2 separate regions of the Homo sapiens genome follow, and region 2 is linked to region 1. Evidence: fine-mapped expression QTL. A gene starts in region 1. The other region holds a variant in brackets. All regions are shown on one strand. Distances are from middle to middle. Region 1 holds the start of UBXN6 (UBX domain protein 6). Region 2 holds the start of SH3GL1 (SH3 domain containing GRB2 like 1, endophilin A2).

Evidence for each region.
Region 2: its variant is fine-mapped to the expression of UBXN6 in prefrontal cortex (ROSMAP, PIP 0.95).

The regions. Positions count from the first base shown.
Region 1 is chr19:4,449,740-4,465,763 of GRCh38, reverse strand. It overlaps UBXN6 (UBX domain protein 6), which reads left to right and starts at 7,970. Exons shown (of 11, transcript NM_025241.3): 1 at 7,970-8,149; 2 at 11,671-11,834; 3 at 12,242-12,306; 4 at 13,272-13,400. The coding sequence starts at 8,067. It also overlaps a transcript of CHAF1A not described here. RefSeq lists enhancers at 7,709-7,908, 11,735-12,434 and silencers at 8,019-8,068, 8,099-8,168.
Region 2 is chr19:4,396,366-4,412,389 of GRCh38, reverse strand. SH3GL1 (SH3 domain containing GRB2 like 1, endophilin A2) reads left to right here and starts at 11,843. Exons shown (of 10, transcript NM_003025.4): 1 at 11,843-12,066. The coding sequence starts at 12,022. It overlaps CHAF1A (chromatin assembly factor 1 subunit A), which reads right to left and starts at 9,750. Exons shown (of 15, transcript NM_005483.3): 1 at 9,576-9,750; 2 at 6,428-6,478; 3 at 2,631-3,487. The coding sequence starts at 9,627. RefSeq lists enhancers at 2,259-3,070, 3,071-3,882, 8,597-9,292, 9,293-9,990, 11,653-12,482 and silencers at 9,503-9,782, 11,745-12,254, 12,315-12,364. The variant T/C (reference allele first, on the strand shown) is at 9,370.

The DNA of each region.
Region 1 (16,024 bases):
GTGCTGGGATTACAGGCGTGAGCCACCACACCCAGCTTATTTATTTTTTTGAGACAGAGTCTTGCTCTGTTACCAGGCTGGAGTGCAGTGGCGCGATTTTGGCTCATTGCAACCTCCACTCCTGGGTTCAAGCGATTCCCGTGCTTCAGCCTCCCGAGTAGGTGGGACTACAGTGTGCGCCACCAAGCACAGCTAATTTTTTGTGTTTTAGTAGAGATGGGGTTTCACCCTGTTGGCCTCTCTGGATGGTCTCAATCTCCTGACCTCATGATCCACCTGCCTCGGCCTCCCAAAGTGCTGGATTACAGGCGTGAGCCACCGCGCCTGGCCAAGAATTTTTTTTTTTTTGAGATAGGATCTTGCTGTCCTGACCAGGCTGGAGTGCAGTGACATGATCTCAGCTCACTACAGCCTCTACACTTCGGGCTCAAGTGATCCCCCTGCCTCAGCCTCCTGAGTAGCTTGGACTACAGATATGTGCCAGCACACCTGGTTAATTTTTAATTTCTTATAAAGATGGGATCCCACTTTGTTACCCAGACTGGTCTCAAACTCCTGAGCTCAGGCAGCCCTCCTGCCTCGACCTCTCAAAGTGCTGGGATTACAGGTATGAACCACCTTGCCCGGCCCCATGCAATTTTTTTTTTTTTTTTTTTTTTTTTTTGAGAAACAGTCTCACTATGTCACCCAGACTGGAGTGCAGTGGTGTAATCTTGGCTCACTACAGGCTTGACCTCCTGAGCTCAAGGAATCTTCCTGCCTCAGTCCCCCAAGTGGCTGGGACTAAAGGTGTGTGCCACTATGGCAGGCTAATTTTTTTTTTTTTTTTTTTTTGTAGAGATGGGATTTCACCATGTTGCCAAGGCTGGTGCAATATCTTTTTTTTCCTTTTTTTTTTTTTTTGAGACGGAGTCTCTGTCACCCAGGCTGGAGTGCTGTGACACAATCTTGGCTCACTGCAATCTCAACCTCCTGGGTTCAAGGGTTTCTCCTGCCTCAGCCTCCCGAGTAGCTGGGATTACAGGCACGTGCCACCACACCTGGCAAATTTTTGTATTTTTGGTAGAGTCGGGGTTTCATCATCTTGGCCAGCCTGGTCTCGAATTGCTGGCCTCAAGTGATCCACCAGCCTCGGCCTCCCAAATTGCTGGGATTACAGGCATGAACCACCGTGCCCGGCCTGCAGTATCGTTTAAAAACTATTTGTTACACAGGCTGCAACCTTAAGACGATATCCTCAGTGAAATCAGCCAGACGTAAAAAGACAAGTACTGTCTTATATGTATCCACTCATAAGAGGTCCCTAGGGTTGTCAAATTCATAGAGACGAAAAGTAGACTAGAGGTTATCAGGGTTGGGGGTAGTTATTACTTAATTAGGCAGAATTTACGTTTCACTAGATGAAATGTAACGATTGCTGTAATGGTTGCACAACAATGCGAATGTACTTGAGGCCACCGAACTGTACACGTAAAAGTGGTTAATGGCTGGGCACGGTGGCTCACACCTGTAATCCCAGCACTTTGGGAGGCCGAGGCCGGCGGATCACGAGGTCGGGAGATCGAGAACATCCTGGCTAACATAGTGAAACCCCATCTCTACTAAAAATACAAAAAAAATTAGCCGGACGTGGTGGTGGACATCTGTAGTCCCAGCTACTCGGGAGGCTGAGGCAGGAGAATGGCGTGAACCCGGGAGGTAGAGCATGCAGTGAGCTGAGATTGCACCACTACACTCCAGCCTGGGTGACAGAGCAAGACTCTTTCTAAAAAAAAAAAAAAAAAAAAAAAATTGCGGGGCGCGGTGGCTCACACCTGCAATCCCAGCACTTTGGGAGGCCAAGGCAGGTGGATCAGGAGGTCAGGAGTTCTAGACCAGCCTGGCCAAGATGGTAAAACCCTGTCTCTGCTAAAAATGCAAATATTAGCTGGGCGTGGTGGCTGTAATCCTAGCTACTCGGGAGGCTGAGGCAAGAGAATCACTTAAACCCAGGAGGCGGAGGTTGCAATGGTTAAGCTAGGTGCAGTGACTCATGCCTGTAGTCCCGGCTACTTGGGAGGCTGAGGTGGGAGGATCACTTGAGCCTGGGAGTTCTGGGCTGCAGTGACCCATGATTGTGCCTGTGAATGGCCACTGTAGTTGTGCTCCAGCATGGGCAACATAGGAAGACCACATCTGTATAAAAAATTTTTGGGCCAGGCACGGTGGCTCACACCTGTAATCCCAGCACTTTGGGAGACCAAGGTGGGTGGATCACGAGGTCAGGAGTTCAAGACCAGCCTGGCCAACATGGTGAGACCTTGTCTCTACTAAAAATACAAAAATTAGCCGGGCGTGGTGGCGTGTGCCTGTAATCCCAGCTACTGAGGAGGCTGAGGCAGGGGAATCGCTTGAACCCAGGAGGCAGAGGTTGCAATGAGCTGAGATCACACCATTGCACTCCAGCCTGGGTGACAAGAGCAAAAACTCCGTCTCAAAAATAATAATAAGAAGAATAATTTAAAGTTCCAACAGCTTTACAATCAAACGCTGGGCGAGGTGGTTAACACCACTAATCCTGGTGATTTGGGAGGTTGAGGGGGATCACTTGAGACCAGGAGATCTATACCAGCCTGGGCAACCTAGCGAGACCCCATCAGTATAATACATATTTCATTTTTAAAATTTAAACAGTTATTTGTTTACTTTGAGTTTATCTTTTTTTTTTTTTTTTTTGAGACAGAGTCTCACTCTGTCACCCAGGCTGGAGTGCAGTGGCAGGATCTCGGCTCACTGCAAGCTCTGCCTCACGGGTTCACGCCATTCTCCTGCCTCAGCCTCCCGAGTAGCTGGGACTACAGGCGCCCACCACCACGCCCGGCTAATTTTTTGTATTTTTAGTAGAGATGGGGTTTCACCATGTTAGCCAGGATGGTCTCAATCTCCTGACCTCGTGATCCGCCCACCTTGGCCTCCCAAAGTGCTGGGATTACAGGTGTGAGCCACCACGCCCGGCCGAGTTTATCTTTTAATGGTTTTTTGTTTGTTTGTTTGTTTTTTGTTTTTTGTTTTGAGACGGAGTCTTGCTCTGTCGCCCAAGCTGGAGTGCAGTGGCGCGATCTCAGCTCACTGCAAGCGCCACCTCCCAGGTTCACGCTATTCTCCTGCCTCAGCCTCCCAAGTAGCTGGGACTACAGGCACCCACCACCACACCTGGCTAATTTTTTGTATTTTTAGTAGAGACGGGGTTACACCATGTTAGCCAGGATGGTCTCGATCTCCTCCTGCCTCAGCCTCCCAAGCAGCTGAAGCTGCAGGTGCGCACCACCATGCCTCACTAATTTTTGGTTTGTTTGTTTTTTGAGACAGAGTCTCACAAACCAGAATGCAGTGGCATGATCTCAGCTCACTGCAACCTCTGCCTCCCAGGTTCAAGCAATTCTCATGCCTCAGCCTCCCAAGTAGCTGGGATTACAGGGAGGCACAACCAGCACTGATTTTTTTTTTTTTTTTTTTTGGTAGAGACAAGGGTTCGCCATGTTGCCCAGGGTGTTATTTTTATTTTATTTATTATTATTATTATTTTTTGAGATGGAGGCTTGCTCTGTTGCCCAGGCTGGAGTGCAGTGGCATGATCTTGGCTCACTGTGACCTCTGCCTCCCGGGTTCAAGCGATTCTCTGCCTCAGCCTCCTGAGTAGCTGGGATTACAGGTGCTGCCACCACCCCTAGCTAATTTTTGTATTTTATTTTTAGCAGAGACAAGGTTTCATCATGTTGGCCAGGCTGGTCTTGAACTCCTGACCTTGTGATCCACCCACCTCAGACTCCCAAAGTACTGGGATTATAGGGGTGAGCCACTGTGCCTGGCCTGTTATTTTTATTTTTTAGTAGAAACAAGGTCTCACTATGTTACCCATCCTGGTCTTGAACATCAGGGCTCAAGCAATCCTCCTCCCTCGGCCCCCCAGTGTTCTGGGATTACAGGCGTGAGCCACTGCGCAAGATTGAACAATTTTTAAAAAATTACCCGGAGGCCGGGTGCAGTGGCTCACGCCTGTAATCCCAGCACTTTGGGAGGCTGAAACAGGCGGATCACCTGAGGTCAGGAGTTCAAGACCAGCCTGACCAACATGGAGAAACCCTGTGTCTACTAAAAATACAAAAAAGTAGCCAGGCATGGTGGCGGGTGCCTGTAATCTCAACTACTCGGGAGGCTGAGGCAGGAGAATCCGAGAGATGGAGGTTGTGGTGAGCCGAGATCGCACCATTGCACTACAGCCTGGGCAACAAGAGCGAAATTCCTTCTCAAAAAAAAAAAAAAAAAAAAAATTAGCTGAGTGTGGTGGCACATGCCTGCAGTCCCAGCTTCTTGGGAAGCTGAGTGGGGAGGACTGCTTGAGCTCAGAAGTTCTAGGCTGCAGTGAGCCATGATTGTGCCACTGCACTCCAGCGTGGGGAAGAGAGTAAGACCCTGTCTAAAAAAAAAAAGAAAGCTGGGCATGGTGGCTCATGCCTGTAATCCCAGCACTTTGGGAGGCCGAGGCGGGCGGATCACGGGGTCAGGAGATCGAGACCATCTTGGCTAACACGGTGAAACCCCGTCTCTACTAAAAATACAAAAAATTAGCCGGGTGTGGTGGCGGGCGCCTGTAGTCCCAGCTAGTCGGGAGGCTGAGGCAGGAGAATGGTGTGAACCTGGGAGGTGGAGCTTGCAGTGAGCCAAGATTGTGCCACTGCACTGCAGCCTGGGCAACAGAGCGAGACTCCATCTCAAAAAAAAAAAAAAGAAAAGAAAAGAAAAGAAAAATAAATGTTGTCCTCCCAAAGTGCTGGAATTACTGGTGTGAGCCACCGACCGCTCCTGGCAGAAATGTTAAATTATTTAATCTCATAACCTCATCCGACATGAGGAAGATAGTCCAGGAGAGCGTCATGGTGGAAGAGGATTGAGTTAGGCAGAGGAAGAGAAGTCCCTTCTGGTAAAGGAGAATGCCTAGGCAAAGGCCCAGAGGTGAGCTGGAAATACTTCCAGGTAACTGAGGCAGAGGTGGAAAGGTGGGTGATAACAAGAAACGGGGTTTCTGAAACCCTCAGAATACTTAGAACCTGAAATAGAAATTTATTAGGGCCTATTAATGTTAGGATCTCCTTAGACCAGGCTGAGGAACCCCATAGGATTTTATTCTTGGAGAAGTGGGATGGGTCTCTGCCACTTTCCAGCTGTGTGACTTTGGCCCAGTGTTGTACCTTTATTTGAGTTATAGGGTATACAATTCCTTATTCACAACAATGAGCTGTAATTTTCTTTTCTTTTCTTTTTGAGACGGAGTCTTGCTCTGTTGCCAAGCTGGATTGCAGTGGCGCAGTCTCGGCTCACTGCAACCTCTGCTTCCCAAGTTCAGGTGATTCTCCTGCCTTAGCCTCCTGAGTAGCTGGGATTACAGGCATGAGCCACCGTGCCCGGCATACTGAGAACTTTCTAATCACATGATCACCCCTACAATCTATAGAGAGTGTTATTCTTATCCCCATTTCATAGATAGGAGACTGGAGATCAGAAAGATTGAAGTTTGGGTTGCACTGTATTCTTCTTTTATTTATTTATTTTTTTACTTTATTTATTTATTTTTGAGACAGAGTCTCGCTCTGTCGCCCAGGCTGGAGTGCAGTGGTGCAATCTCAGCTCACTGCAACCTCTGTCTCCTGCGTTCAAGTGATTCTGCTGCCTCAGCTTCTCAAGTAGCTGGGATTACTGGCACACACCACCACACCCGGCTGATTTTTGTATTTTTAATAGAGACGGGGTTTTGCTATGTTGGCCAGGTCGGTCTTGAACTTCTGACCTTAAGTGATCCACCCGCCTTGACCTCCCAAAGTGCTGGGATTACAGGTGTGAGCCACCGCACCTGGCCCAATTCTTTTCCTTTTTTTTTTTTTTTTGAAACGGAGTCTTGCTCTGTTGCCCAGGCTGGAGCACAGTGGCATGATCTCGGCTCACTGTAAGCTCTGCCTCCTGGGTTCACGCCATTCTCCTGCCTCAGCCTCCCAAGTAGCTGGGACTACAGGCGCCCGCCACCAAGGCTGGCTAATTTTTTTAAAAATTATTTTCAGTAAAGACAGGGTTTCACCGTATTAGCCGGGATGGTCTCAATCTCCTGACCTCGTGATCCACCCGCCTCGGCCTTCCAAAGGGCTGGGATTACAGGCATGAGCCACCGTGCCTGGCCTTTTTTTCTTTTTTTAATAAGACAGGGTCTGGCTCTGTTGCCCAGGCTGGAGTGCAGTGGCGTGATCCTAGCTTACTGCAGCCTCCAATTCCTGGGCTAAAGCAATCCTCCCACCTTGGCCTCCCAAAATGTTGGGACTGCAGGCCTGAGCCACCCGTCCAACCCATGATATTTCAATTTCAGTCTTGGGGTGGGCTGTTTCCTCACCTGGAGGCTTCTCCTCCATCAGTCTCTGTGTATCTCATTCCAACTCCTTCTTTTTTGAGGCAGAGTCTCCCTCTGTTGCCCAGGCTGAAGTGCAATGGCGAGATCTCGGCTCACTGCAACCTCCACCTGCCGGGTTCAAGCGATTCTCCTGCCTCAGCCTCCCGAGTAGCTGGGATTACCGGTGCCCATAGAGACAGGCTTTCACCATGTTGGCCAGGCTGGTCTCAAACTCCTGACCTCAAGTGATCCGCCGGCCTCGGCCTCCCAAAGTGCTGGGATTAGAGGCATGAGCCACCACGTCTGACCCCCAACTCCCATTTTTTGAGGCTTGTTTTAACTGTCACTTTGTGTATCTTCTTTGTGGATTGCACAGACCAAAGTACGCCACTATTAACTGGTGTCCACCAAAGTGGATCCCCAATCCCCAGGTCCCAATTGGGTGCATTGGGTGCATCCTCTTTTTTTTTTTTTTTTTTTTTTTTTGAGACGGAGTCTCGCTCTGTCGCCCAGGCTGGAGTGCAGTGGTGAGATCTCGGCTCACTGCAAGCTCCGCCTCGCGGGTTCACGCCATTCTCCTGCCTCAGCCTCCCGAGTAGCTGTGAGTACAGACGCCTGCCACCATGCCCGGCTAATTTTTTGTATTTTTAGTAGAGACGGGGTATCACCGTGTTAGCCAGGATGGTCTCGATCTCCTGACCTTGTGATCCGCCCGCTTCGGCCTCCCAAAGTGCTGGGATTACAGGCATGAGCCACCGCGCCCGGCCCAGGTGCATCCTCTTAAACAGCTCCTACCTAGGGTACGTGGTGATGGTGGCGGGGGGGTGCTTCAGGCACCAAAACAGGCCAGATCGTGGGGGCCTCCAATACCCAACATTGAATTGGGATTTTATCACGTAAGCTCTGGGGAGACAGAGAAGGTTGGAATTTTTTTTGTTTTGCTTGAGACAGGGTCTCTCTCTGTCGCCCAGGCTGGAATGCAGTGGCTTGATCACAGCTCACTGCAGCCTCGACCTCTTGGGTTCAAGCGATCCTCCCGCCTCTGCCTCCCAAGTAGCTGAGAGGCGCGCGCCACCACCCTCGGCTAATTTATTTTATTTTATTTTTTTTTTTTTTATAGAGACGAGGTTTTGCCATGTTGCCAGGCTGGTCTCCAACTTCTGGGATCAAGCAATCCTTCCGCTTGAGCCTCCAAAGTGCTGTGATTGCAGGCGTGAGCCACCGCGCCTAGTTTAGGTTGAGCAGCGAAAGGGATAGGGCCCAGTGCTTTCTCTGCGAGGTTCAGTTGGCCTGTCCCTGTCCTATCACCGTTTGTCACCGTTTGGGGAGCGCCACGGAATGCCCTGTCTCCAATCGAGAGGTGCACTCGTCGCCCTGGCAACGGAGTCCGGAAGAACCACAGAGACGCGGCTCCAGCGTACAGAGCGGCCGCCCTGGGCCAGCAAGGCACCGAGCGCTAGAGAGGCACGTCTAGTCGATTGTCACGTGGCAGGCCAGGGGAAGGCGGGACTTCCGGCGGCGAGGTAAATTTTTTTTTTTTTTTTTTTTTTTTTTTTAATTTTCTTCCGGTGGCTGGTCTCCGGCGGCCCCGTCCCCGACTGGGCCCCGTGCCCCCCCGCCCCCGCGGCCCCCCGCCGCCGGGCCAGCCGCCACCATGAAGAAATTCTTTCAGGAGTTCAAGGCCGACATCAAGTTCAAGAGCGCGGGACCCGGTCAGAAGCTCAAAGAGTCCGTGGGGTGCGTGAGGAACGCAGGGGCTTGAGGCCCTGCGGGGCGGGGACGGCCGGGGAGAGAGATCTGGGGCCTTGGGCGGCTCGGGAGATCGGAGAGGATGAGGGGCTGGGAGCGGCACGCGAGGGTCAGGGGAGGGGGAGAGGCGCCGGGGGCGGACGAAGTCGGGCCGAGGGTGGGCGTCAGGGGGAGGGGAGAGAGATCTGGGGGCGGGGCAGGAGGGGGCGGGTATGACCCGGGGGCGCGGCGGGGGAGGCGAGGGGAGGGGAACTAGCGCAGGGGGCGGGGCGGGAGGGGAGGTCTCGGGGGCGGGGCCGCAGGAGGGTCCGATGCAGTGGCGGGGGATTAGGGCGACGGGGCTGTAGGCAGTTGGGGGTCAGTGGAACGACCTTTGGGGAAAAACGGGATCATGAGTCCTGAGCCGGGTGGTGAGGGAGAGCTCTGTCTGGGGACCCGGCTGGCCGAAGAGGCCGGGATGATTTGGGGCAATCTAGGTGACCATGGATGGGAGCTGAGCTTGGAGGAGGACGCACAGCTGTGGGGTGGGGTGGTGAAGAGTTGTTTTGAGGTATCCATGGGAAGAGGGGTTCTGGATTTGGTATCTGGAGCACGTGGGAGGCTGATGGGAGACTAGAAAGAGTCTGGAAGGCCAGGGAGGCCGGGGTGGGCAGCGTCGTCAGTGACCTGGGATGTCCTGGCGAATTGAGAGGGAGGGGCTGAGGAAGGTGTGTGAGGAGAGTGGAGGTGAGGGATTCTGACAGATGGACTCTTACCCGGGAGGGGCCTGAGAGGAGAAGACGGGTGAGACAGACGCGTCTTAGCAGGCTGGGAGAAAGAGCTTCTCTGCGAGGCTTCTCTGCCACGTCACTGTGCCAAGTGGATTATGGAAGTGGGAGAGGAGGGGAAAGGAGATAGATGCCGGGCAGGCTTCCGGATTGTCTAGGGAGGACTTGGAGAGAAGGGCCTGAGCAGGGCTGAGCCAGCTGGGAGGGCCGGGGAAGAAGTGGAGCTAGGGAAGGTGCAAGGCTGAGGGCTGTTGGGTTGAGAAAAGGGAAACTGGAGAGCTGGGGCCGCTGCAGGGAGCTGGCTGGCCAGAGGGTGGTGGGGACTGATGGAGAGGGACTGAGGAAGTCAGCCAGGCAGCCAGGACACGGGTCTGTAAGCAATAGTGGAAGGGATTGTGAGGGAGTGGGGGCTGGGAGAGGCAGGGAGGTGGCAGGAAGTGGGGGTCAGGAATCACGGGGCAGTGGGGTGGTGATGGAGGTAGGGGCATAGTGAGGACGTCAGGGTTCCTGGGGGAGAGCAGGAGAGCAAAGGCTGAGTGAGGGAGGGAGAGGGGTCAGGGAGAGAAGGGGGCAAATCGGGGGAGCCCTTCATTGATTCAACCAATAGTGGGTGGGGGGTGCTGGGGCCACTGGGACTGGGCATGATAGGAAGGATGCAGGGTATCGGGGTGATGGCTGGATCAGCCCAGAGCCTGGGCGGAGAGGGGAAGGTTGGAGGGGAAGGTTGGGAAAGGAAGCGGTGCGGAGGTCCCTTGTGGAGCGAGACTGCATATCCAGGGTGTGTGGGGTGGGTGGGCACCAAGTCCTGTTTTAGGCTGCAGTGGTGGACAGGAGAAGGCCTCTGCTGTCCCAGGGCTCACCTTCTAGAGGGAGCCGATGGACAAATAAACCAACAGACCTTGGATGAGCGCTCAGGCGATGAGTGCTTGGATGAGTGCCCAGGGCCTCCAAGGAGGGTGAGCAGGGGCCGTCAGGTGGTTTGGGAAGGCCTCTCCCAGGACACAGTGAGACTCAGCTGTGGGGAAATCTGCCCCTCCTTCTCTCCCTGCGGCAGCTCTAGCCCTTTCCAGACCCCCATCCTCCTCCCACTCCCCCGGAGAACATTCTGGGCAGAAGGTGCAGACAGTGCAGGGGCCTGCAGTGGGGAGCAGCTGGGGTGTGGGAAGAACTGCGGGGAGCCCAGGGGAGACAGGCCACGGGAGGGCAGTGGGCCAGGCTGGGAAGGGCTCTCTGGCCAAGGGAAGCTTTAGGATTTTGCAGTGGGAGGGCGTTGTGCAGTGGAGTGATGCTGACGCTCCCTGGCTGAGGTTCCAGAAGGGTCCCTGTGGCTGCCCAGGGGGGCAGGGTCCATGGCTGGTTGGGGTGAGGTGCCCTGGGAAATGGCATTTTGTTGGAAAGACCCAGATATCGGATGAGGCCGGGGTGGGTCTTCATGAGTCATCTCCTCTTCCACCCAAGATGCTCAGCTGTGGGAGGACTAGATAGGCAGGGGTGGGACGAGGAGGGAGGGCTGCCCGGGTATGTAAGCAGAGCCAGAGGAGTATAGGGCTTGAACTGAGAGCCTGGCCTCCCAGAAGGTTTTAATAGACCTACGGCACAGAAATTGACACAGCCCGTAAGTTCATGGGAGGGGCCTGAGAGGAGACGGGTGAGACAGACGCGTCCGAGCAGGTTGGGAGAAAGGGCTTCTCTGCGAGGCTTCTCTGCCAGGTCACTGTGCCACGTGGGTTACGGAACTCTCCTTGGTGTAGGGCTCAACAGGGTGGAGCCACGAGTCCATGAGCTCTTCGTACTTGCACAGCCCTAGGCCTGGCATGGAGTGGCCAGGGCGAGGCTGGTTCTGCTGTCCGCTCTCCCCAGGGTCCCGCCACGAGGGTGGCGTGGCATGGGGCACATCGCCCGGACTTCCTGTCCCTCTTGGGTTTAGGAATGGGATGGTGAGGCCTCCCTGGCAGCTTGTTAGGAGGAGTAAACCAAGCGAGCCGACCAGCTCCCAGCAGGGTCCTGGCACACAGTAGGTGCTCAGCAAACGAAGCTGTGACCTGAGGGTGGAGAGTCTTATGGCAGGGAGGGAGGGAGGATGTGACACCCCTTGAGTCTCCTCAATTCCTGAGGATGCGGGCTGGGTGCTGTGGCTCATGCCTATAATCCCAGCAGTTTGGGAGGCCACGGTGGGAGGATCATTTGAGGCAAAAGTTCGAGACCAGCCTGAGCTACATAGCGAGACCCTGTCTCGATAGAAAAATTAGCCAGGCATGATGATGCTTGCCTCTAAGTCCCAGCGACTTGGGAGGCTGAGGCGGGAGGATTCCTTGAGCCTGGGAGCTCAGGATTGCAGTAAGCCATGATCGTGCCACTATACTCCAGCCTTGGTGAGAGAGCAAGACCCTGTCTCAAAAAGAAAAAAAGCACTGAGGATGTCAAGGTGCCTTCACCTCAGGAGGGGTGCTGTCACCCCATTTTACAGATGAGGACGCTGAGGGCCAGTGGGGGCAGGACTTGCCCGATGGTGCAGAGCTGAGTGGAACCAGCATCTCCTTCCTCCAGGGGCTCTTCCGCCTGCAGTAGAACCATCTGGTGGCTGCAGGTGGCCCCTGGGAACCAGGTGTCCTGGCCCACATAGGCAGGGACACGTCTGGCTGATGGTGCTGGGGAGGGGCAGAAGCTCCTCTGTGTGACTGCACGTCAGCTTTGCCGGCCACCTCGGGAGGATACACTCACTCTCCCTCGGTCTGTTCCCAGGGAAAAGGCCCACAAAGAGAAGCCCAACCAGCCAGCCCCCAGGCCGCCCCGCCAGGGACCCACCAATGAGGCACAGATGGCAGCCGCTGCCGCCCTAGCCCGGCTGGAGCAGAAGCAGTCCCGGGCCTGGGGCCCCACATCGCAGGACACCATCCGAAACCAGGGTGAGATATGGCCCTCCTCGGGCCCAGGTTGGGGCTGTTTGAGGTTCTCGGCCCTGGTGCCTGGCCCTGGATGCAGAAGTCACATGAGCAACCGTGGGGGTGTGAGGGTCACCCTTGGGAGCGGCTCATCAAGGGCAGGTGCTGGGGGAAGGGCAGCTTCCTGGGGAGGGGGTGGGAGCAGAGACTTGGAGCAGAAACGGGCTGCCCAGGCAGTGGGGTGCTTGCTCAGGCTGAGGGGTGGCTGCACAGCAAGTCCTGCAGGGGACCTCCAGCCTGACCTCCAGCAGAAGCAGGCTGGGGCGGTGTGCGTGGCCCCCAGGCCCACCCCGGGAATGAGGGGGCTTGGGCCAGGACAGCGGCGTGCTCACTATCCCGTCTCTGCCTCTCTTTCTTGGGCTGCCTTCCAGTGAGAAAGGAACTTCAAGCCGAAGCCACCGTCAGCGGGAGCCCCGAGGCCCCAGGGACCAACGTGGTAAGAACAGCCACTGGTGGCACTGTCCCATGCCAAGGGGTGGGGACAGCTTGACTGTGTCACGGGGGAGATGTGGCCTCTGCCCTTGGGGCTCAAGGGCTGTTGGAAAACCTTGCCTTGCAAGGTGGACACAGGTTGTGGTGGAACACGGTGTTGTCTGGGACCTTCGGGGCTCGGCAGCTGAGGATGCCGGCTCAGGCCTGGAGAAGTGGGCCTCAGGTACACGAGCCCATCGCTCCCTCCCCTTAACCCCTTAAGGGCAGATGCAGTTACAGTTTCCACTATTCAAAAAGAGAACCGGGGTTGAGAGAGGTGAAACCAGCTGTCCTCTCTCCTACACCCCAGGACCAGCAAAGGCAGGACCAGAGCCAGTCTGTGGTTTCAGAGCCTGTCCCCTAGCACTGCCCAGTCCTGCCTGCCTTGGAGGTCAAGAGGCTCTGTGGAGACGGGTGGAATCAGGGAGGCCTTCCTCTAGGAGGTGGGCCTTCAGAGCTCCGCTGAAAGGAGTTCTAAGCAGCTTGACCCTCGAGGATTCAGTGAATTTTAGCACGCAGGGACCTTAGAGATGGCCTAGAAATGGAGGCCCAGAAGTCATGCCTTGTCCAGCGCACTGTGCCCGCAGACACCCACACAGAGCTCCTTCCTCAACAGCTTGGGGACAGGACCAGCAGGAACCCAGCTGCCATCTGCTGGGTGTTTCCTGCGTGTCAGAAGCTGCTCCGTACTTTCCGTTCCTTACCTCGTTTAGTTCTGAGCAGGCCCCACAGGGACATTTGACATACCAGGGAAAAGACTCGGGGATCCGGTCACTTGGCCAGGGTGTCTCCCACGGCCACCAGGTGGAAGGGACAGCATGGGGGCTGGAGATGTCTGGTTCTACGGGCCACACTCAGGACTGTGGTGCTCGGCGAGGGTCGGGGTGGCCTCTGTCCACGGTCCAGACTTGGACGCTTTCACCGCCCCAGGTATCTGAGCCCAGAGAGGAAGGCTCTGCCCACCTGGCTGTGCCTGGCGTGTACTTCACCTGTCCGCTCACTGGGGCCACCCTGAGGAAGGACCAGCGGGACGCCTGCATCAAGGAGGCCATTCTCTTGGTGAGTGGCACCCTGTGTGCTCCTGCCCCAACCTGTAGCTTCCTGTGCCTGAGCCACCCTCCATCGGAAGCCCAGGTGGTACAGATCCCTCCCAGAGTCCCCAGAGGCCACTGCTAGTAGTGAAGCCCCTCCTCTGATACCCCAAATCCAGGCACACCATTGTGTATGCATCTGTATCTCCTCTCTCCCAACTAGGTGTCTTTTTTTTTTTTTTTGAGATGGAGTCTCACTCTGACACCCAGGCTGGAGTGCAGTGGCGCATTCTCGGCTCACTACAACCTCCGCCTCCTGGATTCAAACGATTCTCGTGCCTCAGCCTCTCAAGTAGCTGGGATTACAGGCACCTGCCACCATGCCTGGCTAATTTTTGTATTTTTAGTAGAGATGGGGTTTCACCATGTTGGCCAGGCTGGTCTCGAACTTTTGCCTCAAGTGATCAACCCGCCTCAGCCTCCCAAAGTGCTAGGATTACAGACGTGAGCCACCACGCGTGGCCTGGTTGTTTTTCATAAAAGGTTAAGTATTATTTGCTTCAATACAGAAAGAACTTCCTACAAAATTAGCCAGGCATGGTGGCACATGCCTGTAATCCCAGCTACTCGGGAGGCTGAGGCAAGAGAATTGCTTGAATCCAGGAGGCAGAGGTTGTGGTGAGCCGAGATAGCGCCATTGCACTCCAACCTGGGCAACAAGAGCAAAACTCCATCTCAAAAAATAAAAACGTCCACAGCATTTTTTTCCAATACAGCAAGTCCTCACTTAACACCATCAATAGGTTCTCAGAAACTTCGGCTTTAGCCTGGGCAACATGGCAAAACCCTGTCTCTGCCAAAAACAAAAAAAAATAGCTGGGCATGGTGGCGTGCACCTGCAGTCCCTGCTACTCAGAAGGCTGAGGTGGGAGGATTGCTTCAGCCTGGGAGGTAGAGGCTGCAGTGAGCTGTAATCATGCCACTGCACACCAGCCTGGGTGACAAGTGAGACCCTTTCTCAGAAAATAGTAAGTGGCTGGGCGCGGTGGCTCTTGCCTGTAATTCCAGTGCTTTGGGAGGCTGAGGCAGGTGGATCACCTGAGGTCAGAAGTTCCAAGACCAGCCTGGTCAACATAGTGAAACCCCCTATCTACTAAATATACAAAAATTAGCCAGGCGTGGTGACAGGCGCCTGTAATCCCAGCTACTCAGGAGACTGAGGCAGGAGAATCGCTTGAACCTGGGAGGTGGAGGTTGCAGTGAGCCCAGATCACGCCATTGAGCTCCAGCGTGGACACTGGGTGACAAGAGCGAAACTTCATCTTAAAAACAAAACAAAACAAAATAGTAATAGTTCCATAGACTCTCCAGACTCACACCCACTCCAGCAGTGTGTGCAAAAGCACCCGTGTCCCCATCCTCTCACCATACTGTAAATCACCAAACTTTGATCTTTACGCCTGTTGGTAGGTGAAAATAACATCTCAGGATAGAGTTAATTTGCACTTTCCTTATTTTGGATTGGCCATGTTTCATATGAGAATGCGTCCTTTCTACATTATTTAGTAGATAGTTTGTCTTTTTATTAGTGATTTGTAGGCACTCTTTTTTTTTTTTTTTTTTTTTTTTTTTTGAGACAGAGTCTCGCTCTGTCGCCCAGGCTGGAGTGCAGTGGCGCCATCTCTGCTCACTGCAAGCTCCGCCTACGAGGTTCACACCATTCTCCTGCCTCAGCCTCCCGAGTAGCTGGGACCACAGGCGAACCGCCACCACGCCCAGCTGATTCTTTGTATTTTTAGTAGAGACGGGGTTTCACCATGTTAGCCAGGATGGTCTCGATCTCCTGACCTCGTGATCCGCCCGCCTCGGCCTCCCAAAGTGCTGGGATTACAGGCGGGAGCCACCGTGCCCGGCAGCACTCTTTACATATTAGGCAATTTAGGCTTTTGCCTATGATATGAGTTGCACATGTTTCCCTCTAGTTGCTTCTATGTTGGCTCTGCTTATGGTCACTTTGCTGTGTAGGATTTTTTGATCTCTGTATAATTAAATGTGTCAGTTTTAGTTCATGGCTTTTGGGTTTGGGGTCATTCTTAGAAATGCCTTCCCCATTTCCATGCTGAGAGAATTCTTTTGTGGCCTCTCCAGTGCTTTTTTTTTTTTTTTTTTTGAGACAGAGTCTTGCTGTCACCAGGCTGGAGTGCAGTGGTGCAATCTCAGCTCACTGCAACCTCTGCTTCCCGGGTTCAAGCAATTCACCTGCCTCAGCCTCCCAAGTAGCTGGGACTACAGGTGCACGCCACCACACCCGGGCTAACTTTTGTATTTTAGAGATGAGGTTTCACCATGTTGGCCGGGATGGTCTCGCTCTCCTAATCTCGTGATCCGACCGCCTCGGCCTCCCAAAGTGCTGGGATTCCAGGCATGAGCCACCGTGCCCGGCCTCCAGAGCTTTTCTTCTGGCTTCTCCTTGACTGCTTGCTTGTTTCCATGGTTGAAGCTTTGATCCAGCTGGAGCATGTTATTATGTAACATGGTGGGATGGAGCTGATGTAATTTTTTTTTTAGATCTTGGCTCAGCTTTCTTCTCAGCCCCACCTGTCGAGAGCACCTGTCTTTTGCTTACAGCTGTGAAATCCCACCTTTCTCACA
Region 2 (16,024 bases), 53 kb after region 1:
TGTATTTTTAGTAGAGACGGGGTTTCTCCATAATGGTCAGCCTGGTCTTGAACTCTCGACCTTAGGTGATCCACCCGCCTCGGCGTCCCAAAGTGCTGGGATTGCAGGTGTGAGCCACCGCGCCCAGCCATGTGTCCCGTTCTTGCTAAATGGCTCACATCACAGGACGAAATTTTGCAAAGCGGCAGCAGCCTGGAAGAAATTCAAGTGATCGAATGTACACTACAGGATGCCCAATGGGGAGAGACTTCAACTCTGATTTTGGGAGATTGAGTGGTGGATTAGGTAGAAGCTGAAATGTGTACATGCCAGTCTGGCACATTTAGTAACTTAGAAGAGGGTACTAGGCTTAGTACCTGAGTGATAAAATAATCTGTACAACAAACCCCCACGACAAGAGTTTACCTATATAACAAACCAGCACATATAAAACAAAGTAGAAGACTGGGGCGGTGGCTCATGCCTGTAATCCCAGCACTTTGGGAGGCCGAGGCAAGCGGATCACCTGAGGTCAGAAGTTTGAGGCCAGCCTGGCCAACATGGTGAAACCCGTCTCTACTGAAAAGATACAAAAATTAGCCAGGCGTGGTGGTGGGCACCTGTAATCCCAGCTACTCAAGAGGCTGACGCAGGAAAATCGCTTGAACCTAGAAGGTGGAGGCTGCAGTAGGCTGAGACCATGCCATTGCCCTCCAGCCTGGGCGACAGGGTGAGACCATGTCTCAAAAAAAAAAAAAAAAAAAAAGATTTGCACCATTTTTACAACATTTCATAAACCTAAAGAGGAAGCCATTTTTTCCTTTTTCATCTTCTCAGGTGAAAGACAAGAAATGAAGTCATTCAGAAAAATAAATGCTCTTGGCCAAGCACAGTGGCTCACGCCTATAATCCCAGAAACTTGGGAGGCCAAGGCGGGTGGATTACCTGAGGTCAGGAGTTTGAAATCAGTCTGGCCATCATGGCAAAACCCCGTCTCTACTAAAAATACAAAAATTAGCTGGGCATGGTGGCGGGTGCCTCTAATCCCAGCTACTTGAGAGGGTGAGGCAGGAGAATTGCTTGAACCCAAGAGGCGGAGGTTGCAGTGAGCTGAGATGGCGCCATTGTACTCCAGCCTGGGTGACAGAGCAAGACTCTGTCTCAAAAATAAATAAATAAATGGTTCCTTAGAGCTCAAAATCCCGAAAGCGAACAAGGTTGGTGGTTTATGGTCCAGGTGGTCTACTGTACCTGCTTACAGGTACAGATTAAATGACCCATCTCAGGATCTACTACTCTCATATAAAGACCCAACATGAACAAACAAAAGTGCTACAAAACCAAAAACATAAAAAGGCACTGTCTCTTCTGGTTCTACATACTTAAGATAAAAAGTAAAAAATTATAAAATCAAAAGACACCACTAAACACCGTGGGACTCGTGACTGATTTTATCAGTTTGGTCCCTAAGACCTTAAGGACACCATTGTGCTAATAAAAAATCAATAACAGAGACAGACCATGCAAAAGTCCCCCTTATGGGGTCCTTAAAAATGGTTCCAGATGGGGTCTCGCTCTGTCACCCAGGCTGGAGCGCGGCAGTGTGATCATAGCTCGCTGCGGCCTCCAACTCCTCAGCTCAAGTGATCCTCCTGCCTCAGTTTCCCAGGTGGCTGGGACTACAGGCATGTGCCACCATGCCTGGATAACTTTTAAAAATTTTTTTGCAGGGCTGGGTGCAGTGGCTCATGCCTATAATTCCAGCACTTTGGGAGGCCAAGACGGGCAGATTACTTGAGGTCAGAAATTCAAGACCAGCCTGGCCAAGATAGTGAAACCCTGTCTCTACTAAAAATATAAAAATTAGCCAAGTGTGGTGGTGCGCACCTGTAATCCCAGCTATCAGGGATGCTGAGGCAGGAGAATCGCTTGAACCTGGGAGGTGGAGGTTGCAGTGAGCCGAGATCACGCCACTGAACTCCAGCCTGGGTGATAGAGTGACTCTGTCAAAAAAAAAAAAAAAAGTAATTTTTTTTCATAGAGATGGTGTCTATGTTGCCCAGGTTGGTTTTGAAGTGATCTTCAAGCGATCCTCCCACCTCGGCCTCTCAAAGTGCTGGGATGACAGGCATGAGCCACTGTGCCTGGCCCCAGGTAAGGTTTTTAAGATGGCTGGCTGTGCTGACCCTACAGAATTCCCCAAGTCATGCTTCCTGCCGTCTCACTGCCACTTCAGTGCTCAGTGTCTTTGCAGCCCCGTCCCTACATTTCTATGCTTAGACAGGAAGGGCACAGAGAAAGCTGGACCTCGAATCTGAAGTGAGGGGTTACAGCACCAGCTCAGATCCTAATTCCCTAAAACGGCTAAGCTATCACTGATTAGATGTGAACAACGAAGGCAAAACAGCAGGGTGTTATTCACACAGTACACCAGGTACACTGTTGATGAATTAAGTCCCAGGGGCATCACAACGAATGCAGAACTGAACACTGTGAGTTTTGATACCAGGAAGAACTCCACGTCGAGTCCCAGGACCCAGCCCGTGGCCCCGCTCACTCTGCCACAAAACACCTGGGTGACCCAGTGGAGACTGACAGCGCTCTGAGATCCGTGAGCACTGATGTGCAGGGACTCCATGGGAGATACTCACTCTGCGGAGGGGCGTGGAGGTGGGGAAGGGACTGGTACTGCTGTGCTGCTTTGGGGGAGCAGGCGGCCCCTCGGGCGAGCTGGTGGAAGAGGGAGAGCTCAGGGACGAATGGCTGAGTACAGAGTCTTCTTCGGGGAAAGATTCCAGCACCTCACTCTCAGGGGTCATGTTCTTGCCTTGGGGTGTGGCTGGAAGGGACTTGATTTGCGGTGGTCTCACAGCCAAGATGTCCTGCAAGACCACCATAGGCACCTTCCCTTTGAACAGGATGCCCCCAGCTTCACTCCAACTGTCCTGCTCCTTTCTGGGGCACATTCTCGGGCCACTCGTCAGCTCCGGGCAGCTCCGTGGCGAACATTCCTGGGAGTCGCCTCTCCTCCCTGCACCTCCACAGCCAACACCCTCCTCCTCTGTTTTGCAAGGAATGTCTGAAAGGGTCTCTCCAGGAAATGCCAACTTGTCGTTCTGAATGGCCTTCAACAACCCCTGCTGATCCCCAGTGTCTTCTCGCTGGCCATTTATTGCCTCCCTGGAGGGAGAGGCTTCAGAATTTAGTTTATTGTGGTCCACAAGACTGTCTGGCTGCTCATTCGAGTCCTCTGTCAAATCAATGATGACTGTGCTCTGGCCAATACTGGTTTCGATTCTATTTCTTAAAAAGTTATCTAAGGGACCCTTCCCGTTGACAAGTTTCGGTCTAAAGTCTATGTCAGAACCCACATGACAGTTGTTTTCCAAGGTGTCCAAAGAGGCCTCTAAATCGGGGCTTTTACTTTGCACAGAAGTACCCTGATCGTCTGACATGTCATCGGCTTTCCCCTTTGGGACAAGATTCAGGCGCTTAAACGGCAGACGGGCTGAAACAAAGACAGAAAGCCATCTCTAGTGAACGTTTAAAGTTACAACCACTCATGAGCTTGAAAATTACTGATTTGTTGGGACATGGGGGTGGGAGATAATTTTAAAGTTTAAAAAGGGACTATCTGGGCCGGGTGTGGTGGCTCATGCCTGTAATCCCAGCACTTTGGGGAGGCCGAGGCAAGCAGATCACAAGGTCAGGAGTTTGAGACCAGCCAGACCAAAATGGTGAAACCCCGTCTTTTCTAAAACTACAAAAATTAGCCAGGCCATGGTGGCACACGCCTGTAATACCAGTTACTGAGGAGGCTGAGGTAGGAGAATCGCTTGAACCTGGGAGGCAGAGGTTGAAGTGAGCTGAGATCCCAACACTGCACTGTAGCCTGGGCGACAGAGACAGACTCCCTCTCAAAAAAAAAAAAAAAAAAAAAAAAAAAAAAGGCCGGGTGCGGGAGGCCAAGGCAGGCGGATCACAAGGTCAGGAGATCGAGACCATCCTGGCTAACACGGTGAAACCCCGTCTCTACTAAAAGTACAAAAAATTAGCCGGGTGAGGTGGCGGGCGCCTGCATTCCCAGCTACTCGGGAGACTGAGGCAGGAGAATGGTGTGAACCCGGGGGGCGGAGCCTGCAGTGAGCTGAGATCACGCCACTGCACTCCAGCCTGGGCGACCTGAGCGAAACTCTCAAAAGAAAAAAAAAAAAAAAAGACGGGGCAGGGGCTATCTGAAGCCAGGTACACTGACTTACATCTATAATCCCAGCACTTCGGGAGGCTGAGGCAGGAGGATCGCTTGAGCCCAGGAGGTAGAGGCTGCAGTGAGCTGTGGTGGTGCAACTACTCTGCAGCCTGGGCAAAAGGGACCTCGTCTCAAAAAAAAAGAGGGGGTGGGGGGTGCTATCTTTTCATTCTATCCTTTTCTAACATCCTAATTTTACTTATTTTTTTTTCTTTTGGAGACAGTCTTGCTCGTCACCCATGTTGGAGTGCAATGGCGCCACCTCAGCTCACTGCAACCTCCACCTCCTGGGTTCAAGCTATTCTCCTGCCTCAGCTTCTCAAGTAGCTGGGATTACAGGCATGCACTACTACACCCAGCTAATTTTTGTATTTTTAGTAGAGACAGGGTTTCGCCATGTTGGCCAGGCTGGTCTCAAACTCCTGACCTCAGGTGATCTGCCCGCCTCCACCTCCCAAGGTGCTGGGACTACAGATGTGAGTCACCATGCCCCGCTTCAACATCCTAACTTAAAAAACAAAATCCTGACAAGCCTTTTAGCAGAGCCATCGCCAGAATTTCAAGAGACATTTGTTTATTTCAGATGCAGTTCATATTCCAAATTTATTTTTAATGGGTGAAAATCTCATTTGATAATAACTGCATCTGGTTCTCAAGTAGAAAATATAGACACATTTGTGGACAGGGTTTTTTTTTTTTCTCCTGGCCTCAGCACCCTAGGCTCTGTTAGGCTTTTCTCATCAATCAAACTGTTCTCCCAGAGTCTGCCAGGCTTCGGGCTGGTTAGGAGGAACACAGAAACACTTTGGAGAGTGAATTTCCCAAAGAACCTATGTTCACTTACTTCAATGCCATTGCATCTTTTATTAACTATTTCATCATGTAATAGACCAAATAAAAACCTGTTTTTTTTTGGGGGGGGTGTGGGGGGAGTTGTTTGTTTTGAGACAGAGTCTTGCTCTGTCACCAGGCTGGAGTGCAGTGGCGCACCCTTGGCTCACTGCAACCTCTTCCTTCCGGGTTCAAACAATTCTCTTGCCTCGGCCTCCTGAGTAGCTGGGACTACAGGTGCCCCCTACCATGCCCAGCTATTTTGTATTTTAGTAGAGACGGGGTTTCACCATGTTGGCCAGGCTGGTTTCAAACTCCTGAGCTCAGACAATCCGCCCACCTTAGCTTCCCAAAGTGCTAGGATTACAGGTGTGAGCCTAGCATCTGGCGTCCCCCTTTTTTTCAAGAGACAGAGTCTTCCTCTGTCATCCAGGCTGAAGAGCAGTGGTGTCATTATAATTCACCGCAGCCTTGAACTCCTGGACTCAAGCACTCCTCCCACCCCAGCCTCTCAAATAGCTGGTTTTACAGGTATGCAACACTGCACCCAGCCCAAGTTTGAAAAACCCAAAACTGTAGTTTCTAAAAATACAATCTGGGCCGGGTGCGGTGGCTCACACCTGTAATCCCAGCACTTTGAAAGGCTGAGGCAGGGGGATCACAAGGTCAGGAGATCGAGACCATCCCGGCCAACATGGTAAAACCCCATCTCTACTAAAAATAGAAAAATTAGCTGGGTGTGGTGGCACGCGCCTGTAATCCCAGCTACTTGGGAGGCTGAAGGAGGAGAATTGCTTGAACCCAGGAGGCGGAGGTTGCAGTGAGCAGAGATCGCACCACTGCACTCCAGCCTGGGCAACAGAATGAGACTCCGTCTCAAAAAAAAAAAAAAAAAAATTACAATCCAACCGCTCATCTGGCCCAAGGGTGAACACACTCCCCGTTTTATGCAGAAGGATTTGGGAGCATTTATCTTCCAGGACAACAGTGGTTCTCTGAGGGGGCAGTTCTACCTCCCAGGGGACATCAGCCACGTATAGAGATATTTTTGGTTGTTACGACTTGGAGGATGCACTTACTGGCATCCGGTGGGAAGAGGCCAGGGATGCTGCTACGCTCCCTACAACATACAGGAGAGCTCCCAGCTGCAAGTTACAAAACACCAATCGTGCATAAGTGGAGGCCTCGGGGTTTACTTGTGGGAACCCCACGAGACATTACTGTGTGAAAAGCATTTTCCCAGCTTCCTGGTCTGAAGAAGGACTGTTTCTCTCCCCTCTAGCTCCAGGCTTCCACTGAGGTCTCCAACAAGAGACAAGGAAGACTATAAACTACGAACAACTCTTTAACCCATTTCCAAATAATTACCTTGTATTAACTTCTTAACTGGAAAAGCTGGTCTATCTTTGCAATCCATGGCTGCAAATAAAAGTGTCAAAGGGTAAACTGTTAAATTCTGCAAATAATCAAGTTAGCAAATACATATGTAGAGCCAATTATGTACAAGGTGGAGGCAATTCTGACCCCTCTGTCCTCGGGGGCCATTTGACACAGTCTAGAGATGTTTTTGGTTGTCATGATGCAGGGAGGGCTCAAAGGGATGCTATTCACATCCAGTGGGTAGAGGCCAGGGATTCTGCTAAATGTCCCACAATGCAATGCACAGCACACCACAATGAAGAATTATATGGGCCAAAAAAAAAAAATTTTTTTTTTTTTTTTGGAGACAGAGTCTCACTCTGTCGCCCAGGCTGGAGTGCAATGGCACAGTCTCAGCTCACTGCAACCTCCGCCTCCTGGGTTCAAGCGATTCTCCTGCCTCACTCTCTCAAGTAGCTGGGACTACAGGCGCATGCCACCACTCTCGGCTAATTTTTGTATTTTTAGCAGAGACGGGGTTTCACCATGTTAGCCAGAATGGTCTCGAACTCCTGACCTCGTGATCCACCCGCCTCAGCCTCCCAAAGTGCTGGCCACGGCGCTTGGCCTCAAAATGTTAATAGGTTGAGAAATCCTACCCTAGACACTGTCATGTCTTGTTTTATTTTCTTTGTGGCATTTAATCTGAAACTTTCGTGTTTATTACGTCTCTCTGGAAACAAAATGCCAACTCTATGACAGCAGAAAGACTTGTTCCATGCTGCACCTATGGTACCTGGTTAGGGTCTGGAATAAATCAGAAAGCCAACTAAGAGAGTAACCGGAACTGTTTCATGAAATGAAAGTGGAATGAGTAAAAGTAGGGAGGAGAGAAAACATCAGATTACCTATTTCATTCCCATGATCCCCAAACATCTTCCTCCAACCCAAGCCCCCATACCACCACCAAATCTGTAAAATCAGAAAAGGGATCCTTTTCTTTTTAAAGAGAATTCATGAAGGTACCACAATTTAAAGCACTTTGAGCTTGCCAGGCAGGAGCTGAAGTGCTGTCAAGAGAAGATAAGACAAAATATTTTCCTGCAAAAAAAATCTCAAGAAACCATCTAATAATATCAAAGCAGATGCAGCAGTGATCATAAATAGAAGCGAGTCTTTAGATAAATACCTTAAACAGAGTAAGTTTAGGAAGCTCACACTTACCAGGAGATCTGGCTTGGCAAAACCTAGTTTAGTTATTTTGGTTAATCTACGTATGTTTTGTAAGCATTACATAAAAGTGAGTACTTTTTAAAAGCAGACTGGGGCTTCCTAAAAAACTCCATCGTCCATACATGAAACCACCCCTCACCCACCGCCCCAAGCTTAGTGAATAAGAAAAGGTACTGAGAAAATTCATGTTTCCTTTCTAGCCACTTCAAAGAAATAAAGACAGTATCATTCTCAAGTGTCCACTTACCAAAAGCCATGGATTTCTACCCCCTAACTGAAGGATATGATTTTTAGTCACTTAACTTTATTTTCGAGACAATCACAAAAATCTATTTGTGTGGCTTTGAGTCACTAGCTTTGGTGCAAGTGGAACAGAAACAACCTCATTAAAAACAGGACCCACCCTCATTAAAAAATCTTGTATATAAAACGGGACACTCCCAATCCAGAGATCCAAAGATACACACGATTAACACATATGTGTGTATAAAGTTACTAACTGCTCTTTATTCTGCGATTACATCCTTTCTAATTTTATTTGGCACTAAAATATACTTTCCTTTCATGATAGCATGGTCCTAGCGAGTAGCGATTTTTTTTTTTAAAGTTAAATATCCTGGCCAGGCATGGTGGCTCATGCCTGTAATCCCAGCATTTTGGGAGGCCAATGCAGGTGGATTACCTGAGGTCAGAAGTTCGAGACCAGCCTGCCCAACATGGTGAAACCCCGTCTCTACTAAAAAATACAAAAATTAGCCAGGCATGGTGGTGCAGGCCTGTAATCCCAGCTACTTGGGAGGCTGAGGCAGAAGAATCGCTTGAACCAGAGAGGCAGAGGTTGGGCAACAGAGCAAGACTCAGTCTCAAAATAAATAAATAAATAAAGTTAAACATCCTGACTTAAAACATCACAGCTCCACGACAGTACCAACTTTATATTAATTTTATGTCTCCGGGAAATCCCACAGGCTAGAAGGAACTACAGCCATGATTTTCAGCCAAGGCGGAATCTGCCCCATAGGGGACACAGGGCAATGGTATTTCTGGCTGTTACTAAGGCATGGTGAGAGGGGCTGCTACTGGCCTGCAAAAGGCGGAGGCCAGGGATGATGCTTAACACCCTGCAGTGCCGTGCCCAGGACGGCAACAAATATCAACACTGCTGAGGCTGAGAAACTGGACTGGCGTCCATTCTAGCCCTTCATTCGTTCACGTTATTTACTGAGCACCTACTATGTGCCAAAGCGTAATGCCAAGTGCTGCCAAAGCGTTATGTAATGCAGAGTCCAGCAAGGGAGAGGGACAGTCTGGTCTTCCTTGGTTCACCCTCCCACGTTTCAGGAGGCCTGTGGTGGGCTCCAAAGACCCCATTCCAAGGCACACGGAGGAGGAAGTCACGGTGCATATCAGGAAGGAGCAAGAACTCGGGAGTCCCACCCTCCTGGCCATCTCTACCATCTGGGCCTCTTCTTACCCGGGCTTACCCCGACCCTCAGCGGCATCGGTACTGGTCCCCGAGCCCGTGCGACCTTGGGCCTCAGTTTCCCCACCCGCTGCAAGGTCCAACATGGTCAAGGGACACAAACGCATCCAGTAACCTGCAGGGCAAGCCCTTTCGCTTCCCTGGGCCTCAGTTTCCCCTCTCGGCCCCTCCGACCCACCGCCCCAGAGAGTCCTGGAGGGACGAACTGACGCAAAAGCGCCGGAAACAAACAATA[T/C]GGTCGCGGCTACAACAATAACGTCAACAAGGGTGCCCTTGGGGACGCCAGGCCCTCGCTGGGGATGAGAAGGCCCCAGGGGGTGAACGCCCGGCCCGCAGGACCAGGCTTGGCGCCCGGAGGCCCGTCCGCCTCCCATCGCCGCCTCGGCCCGTCCAGGCCGCGCGCCGCGCCCCCCCTTCCCCTCGGCGCGGGCCCGAACCGACCTGTGGCGGCTCCCCTGGCGCCGGGCGCCCCGCACTCCAGCTCCTCCAGCATCGCCCCGGCGGCAGCTCGACCTCCTCTCAGGCGGCGGAGGCGCGGGCTCCCCTCAGGCGGCCGCTGCTCTTCGCCCTCCCGCCCGCGCCGCTGCTGCCGCCGCGGCCGCCGCGCTCGTATTTGGCGGGAACCGCGGCGACCCCCGCAGTCCGCGCGCCAATTGGGCGAGCCCGGGTCACGTGACGGCCCGCCTCGGGAATTGAGGGGCGCCGGGGGCATCCTCGCGAGATCCGTGACTTCCATTCCTCCCAGGGCTCGCCCATTGACATATCCGCGAGGGACTGGGCTTCCCCTCGGAGGCCTGTCATTGGCTGGGAGGAGCTGCCCTGCGATTGGAGGAAGGAGGTGTCAAGCTCATTGCTCTGCGCTGCGACTGGCTGATCGCGTGGGATAGTCCCTAAGAGGAGGGAGGCCCAGGCTCTTACGTCACCAGAACATTTTACGCAAGGCGCAGATGACAACTTGAAAGTGGGATTTAGATGAGGAACCTGGAGTTTTGAGTTTATCCTAATGGGACATCGGCTAAATATAGCAACAGCAATTAAAATTATAAATTGCTTTCTACAAGAACAATAAAACGAAGTCTGGGGAGCGCTTCGGAAGTATTTGACATTCAGTAAATAACATGTAGAATGAGTGAACGAAATGGACGAAATGGATCGTTTCTGGTTTAATCCTCAGGAAATTGGCACATGCTGTTTTCTCTGCCTAGAACAATCTTTTCGCAGCTCTTTTCCTGGCTAATTTATACTTTTCAGATCTTAGATCGTCACCCCAGGAAGCCTTTTCTTCCCCAACCCTGACAATATCAAGTGCCTACAACACTGTTCTTTTCCTTAAAGCAATTACAGCTGTGTCTATTTATTAGTTTGTTATTTGACTAATGAATTAATTTCTGCCTTTTGTCATTAGTTCTGGCGAGGGTAGGACTCATTCCTCACTGGAACCCCAGGACCTGTTAGTAACTGATCATATTTACCAGGTCAATAAATGTTTGAGTGAATGTATAAATATTTGATTGAACTGTGTAGATCAAGCAGATTAAAAGCCTCACACAAAACAGAGAACTTCAGTGTCAGCCTGTGAGTGTAGAAACAGGTTTTCTTTCTTTCTTTCTTCCTTCCTTCCTTCCTTCCTTCCTTCCTTCCTTCCTTTCTTTCTTTCTTTTTTCTTGAGACGGAGTCCCTAGTAGCTGGGACCACAGGCGCCCGCCACCACGTCCGGCTAATTTTTTCTATTTTTTAGTAGAGACAGGGTTTCACCGTGTTAGCCAGGATGGTCTCAATCTCCTGACCTCGTGATCCGCCCACCTAGGCCTCCCAAAGTGCTGGGATTACAGGCGTGAGCCACCGCCCCTGGCCCTGAATTGCATTCTAGAAGCATCTTTCTGGCTGCCATGACAAGGAAGAATTGGAGGGGAGGACTGGTGGAAAGTATGGTCAAGGCATGAAGACAGACCTAGATGTCTAGATGTGTCACGTGGGCAACTGAATGGATGAACACAGGACAGAGAGAGAGAGGAAGAGAGGTGGCCGGGCACGGTGGCTCATACCTGTGAGACCAGTACTTTGGGAGGCTGGATTTGGTGGGGGGGTTGGGGGTTGGATCACCTGAGGTCAGGAGTTCGAGACCAGCCTGGCCAACATGGCGAAACACTGTCTCTACTAAAAATACAAAAATTAGCCTAGCATGGTGGTGCGCGCCTGTAATCTCAGCTACTTGGGAGGCTGAGGCAGGAGAATCGCTTGAACCCGGGAGGCGGAGGTTGCAGTGAGCCGAGATCACGCCACTGCACTCCAGCCTGGGAGACAAAGCAAGACTCCGTCTCAAAAAAAAAATAAATAAATAAATAAAAATGGGAGGGGGCTGAACACTTAGACGAACTGGATTTAGCTAAGATGAGTAAACAGGAATCTGAAGAATCGTAAGCAGGGGCCCCTTCTACTTCCCAACCTCCCTGGCCAGGTTTAAACTAAGCGCGTTTTCCAAGACGTTAGGGTCACCTCCACGACTCCAGGGGGCGCTGCAACTGCTACGGCCCCTCTAGGCTCGCCCCGCTCAACTCACTGACAGAGGCGGCCTCTCCCGCGGTAGACAATGTGCACGTGCGCTCTTCAGCCGGCAGAGGGCGCGCGTGCGCAGACGGGGCCGGGGGCGCGCGCGGGGGCCGGGGGCGCGCGCGGGGGCCGGCACCGGAAGCGTGCGGTTGCCATGTAATATCCTGGCCGCGCGGGCGCGCGAGCGGCTGAGGCGGCGCCGGGGCGGGCGCGGAGCTGGCAAGCGGGTGGCGGAGGCGGCGCCGACGGGGACTGCTGAGGCGCGCAGAGGGTCGGCGGCGCCCGGGAGCCTGTCGCTGGCGCGGTCCGGGCGGGAGGCTCGGCGGCGGGCGGCAGCATGTCGGTGGCGGGGCTGAAGAAGCAGTTCTACAAGGCGAGCCAGGTGAGCGCAGGCCCAGGCGGGAGCCGAGTACCGGGCCCCGGGCTGCCCGGATGAGGGAGCCAGGCCCGACCTGGCCCGGGAGGGGGCCGGGGGGACCGAGGTGGGGACGTTGGCGCGTGTCCCCTGCCAGGTGGGAAGACCAAGGGACGGACGGGGGCGACGAGGTGGCCCAGGCCCTGCCCGCCATGCGGGCTCCAGAAGCGGGGACAGAGCCCCTGGGAGGAGGGGAGAGGCACCCTGGGCTGCCCAGGGACGCGGACCTCTCCCCTCCTTCTCTCCGCTGCAAAGGCGGGGTGCGGGGAGAGAAGGGGAAGAGAGGAGTCCCGAGGCTGTCGACACAGGACTCTTGCCAGATAACCCAGAGCCAGGGAAAAGTTGCGTCTAGAGCAGTTACGTTCAAAATCCTCTGGATGGGCAAGGTACAAAGTTGAAAAGGTAGAGGAAGAAGTCAGTTTCCCCTCTCTGCTCCTCGGGCAGCCAGCCCTTCTCCCCAGAGACAAGCGACTGTCATCGACTCCGTATGTCCCTTTCCTAAGATACGTGTGTGCCTTTCCTTTAAAAACACGTACCCTGTGATAGCATATGCCACAGAATCCTGTGTGCTGTGTTTTTCATTGCTTGGAGATCACACTGGAGCGGGATTTCTCCCCCTCCGTCGGCACTGTTGACATCTGGGGCTGGATTGTTCTCCGTGGTGGGGCCGTCCTGGGCACTGCGGGGTGCTGAGCAGCGCCCCTGGCCTCCACCCACTCCGGGCCAGGAGCACCCCCAAGTCGTGACAACCAAAAATATCTTGAGACATCACCGTGTGTCCCCTTAGAATCAGTCCTCCTTCCCTCCCTTCGTTCCTTCCTTCCTTCTTTCCTTCCTTCCTCCCTCCCTCCTTGCCTCTCTCCCTCCCTCCCTTCTCTTCTTTCCTTCCTCCCTTCCTTTCCTGTCCCCCAGGACTACTGCTCTAGACCATACTCCACACTTCTTGGATTTTTTTTTTTTTTTTTTTTTTTGAGAGGGAGTCATGCTCTGTCGCCCCAGCTGGAGGGCAGTGGTGCAATCTCGGCTCACTGCAAGCTCCGCCTCCTGTGTTCAAGCAATTCTCCTGCCTCAGCCTCCCCAGTAGCTGGGACTACAGGCATGCGCCACCACGCCCGGCTACTTTTTGTAATTTTAGCAGAGACAGGGTTTCTCCATGTGCCCCAGGGTGGTCTCGAACTCCTGGCCTCAAGTAATCCGCCTGCTTCGGCTTCCCAACATGCTGGGATTATCGACGTAAGCCACCTGCCTGGCCTACTTGGCTCTTTTTAATGGGTACATTGTATTTCATTCCATGACATATACCATAATTTATTTAACCAGTTGTCAGTTGATAGATATCTCTATTGTTTACCGGAATTTTCTGTTACCATTACTACAATAAATAGCCAGTGAATATCTTTGCTCACCAGTGGGATTAGTTTTATAGGATGAATTCCCAGAAGTAGAATGCTGCATCCCAGCCTAAGTGCATTTGATATGGACAGATAAAGGGTTTTTTTTGGAAACTCCAGGGCCCACTGCTCATGAATCTGGTGAAAGCTGTGGATCCACTCTCCAGAAAACTGGGCACATTTAAAATTTTCACTTTGCAATTTCGAATGCAAGAAGCCTCAAATTTGGCCGGGCGCGGTGGCTCATGCCTGGAATCCCAGCAGTTTGGGAGGCCGAGGCGGGCGGATCACTTGAAGCCAGGAGTTTGAGAGCAGCCTGGGCAACATGGCAAAACCCCATCTCTACTAACAATACAAAAATTTTGTATTTTTGCCTGTAACCCCAGCTACTAAGGAGGGTGAGACAGGAGAATCTCTTGAATCCGGCAGGCAGAGGTTGCAGTGAGCCGAGATTGCACCACTGCACTCCAGCCTGGGTGACAGAGCGAGACTCCGTCTTGAAAAAAAAAAAAAGACAAGAAGCCTCAGATTGTTGAATCCTATTGGTCCGTGTACTGCAGGGTGAGGTTGTGTGGAATTTGTGTAGATAGAGTCCACCGAGGAATGAGCAATGATCTTAGCAAATGCTTGGGCCAAGGTGGCAAACAGGGTTCTCTGCCCACAGTTCGGAGATGCCCAGTGGGAGCAAAGAGAAACGAGTCCCCAGTAACACCCAGCAGGTACCTTTGCCCCTGGAAAGAAAAAAGTAAGGACCCTGCCAGGTGCTGTGGCTCATGCCTGTAATCCCAGCACTTTGAAGGCTGAGGCAGGGGTTCCCTTGAGTTCAGGAGTTCAAGACCAGCCTGGGCGATATAGGGAGATCCCATCTCTACAAAATATGAAAAAGTTAGCCAGGTGTGGTGATGTGCACCTGCAGTCCCAGCTACTTGGGAGGCTGAGGCAGGAGGACCACTTGAGCCCAGCAGTTCAAGGCTGCAGTGAACTATGATCGTGCCACTGCACTTCAGCCTGGGCAGCAAAGTGAGACCCTGTCTCAAAAAATAAATAAAAAAAGTAACAACCCTAGTGGTTGTTTAGGGATATAGATACTTAGGGTCTATCTCTACACCCCAGATGATGGTTAAACCCTGGAGAAAGATTTAATCCAGACGAATTTTAGAGTTGTCACTGAGAACAGTCCCACCCCCTTGCCCCAGCACTTTGAAATCAGATGGCCTGGCCCTGGGTTAGACCTTGCCCAGCAGGCGTCAGACCTTCACCTGCTTGGTTAGAGCACCATAGAGTACTGCTCCCTAGCAGGAAAGATGTCCTCAGAGGTCTTGGAGGAATTCCTGGGCCACTTTGTTCCCTGCTATAGACAGGTCTCTGGAAGCCACCACCCCCACTCCCAGCGATCAGGGCCTGTGCCCATATTGTCCTGAGCTGACACCCTCTTTAGAGGAATGAACCAGGCCTCTTGTGCCGGCCACCAGGACTTTGTCTCTCTCAAGGGAAGCAGGATGACCTGCGTTCAGATCTGTGAATGGCGCCTTGAAGCCTGGAAAGGACAGTGTGGTGTTAGCTGGGCTTAGGATTGCCTATTTCCACATCCCGAGGCCTAGTCCCAAAGCACAATGGCCACAGCCCACCCTCGGGGCTGTCGTCTTGGCCTCCTGGTCAATTCTGTCCTGAGTCGTGCTCTTAGAAGTCACCCTGGCTGCGTTCCATGCTCTTCTGTGATCATTGCCATGGTTCCCTCTGACATCTCAGCTGTTATCTGGACGTATCCGACTATTTGTGTCTCTTTTTTTGTTTTTAGTCTAATAACAACTCTTTCACCCTCTGCTGTGCCTGTTGGAAAGTGACATCTCTCGGGATCTCTCATTACGTAGTGATACAAACATTTATTGAGTTCTCACCATGTGAGCAGGCAGTATGCTTTATACCAGTAGGTCTCAGCTGGTCTTGCTTATCCGGTCTAAGGGTAAAAAACATTCCCCCTTTTACACAAAAGGATTAGGGGACATTTATCTTCCTGTAAAACAGGGCCAGTTCTGTCCTCCAGGGGACATTGACAATGTCTGGGACCTTTTTGGTTGTCACAGCTTGGTGCGGTGCTGCTGGCTACTAGTAGGTAGACGATATTGCTGGACATCCTCCGGTGCCCAGGGCAGCATCTCCCCACTGCCCCCAAGAATTACCTGGCCCCAAATGTCAATAGTACCAAAATTTGAGAAACCCTGCTTGAAGATTTGGAAAAAAAATGAGGATAATTATACCAAAACAAAGGAACAAAAAAATCCCCACTGAGCCATTCTTACGATTTTCCTAGTTTGGCCAGGTGTGGTGGCTCACGCCTTTAATCCCAGCAGTTTGGGAAGCACTCCAGCCTGGTGGATGAGAGCGAGACTTCGTCTCAAAAAAAAAAAAAGTAAAATATAAAATAAAACAAAGATTTTCCTAGTTTGCTAAACACAGATAGCCACATGTGTAGTTTGTTTTTGTTTGTTTGTTTGTTTTTGAGACGGAGCTTCTCTCTTGTTGCCCAGGCTGGA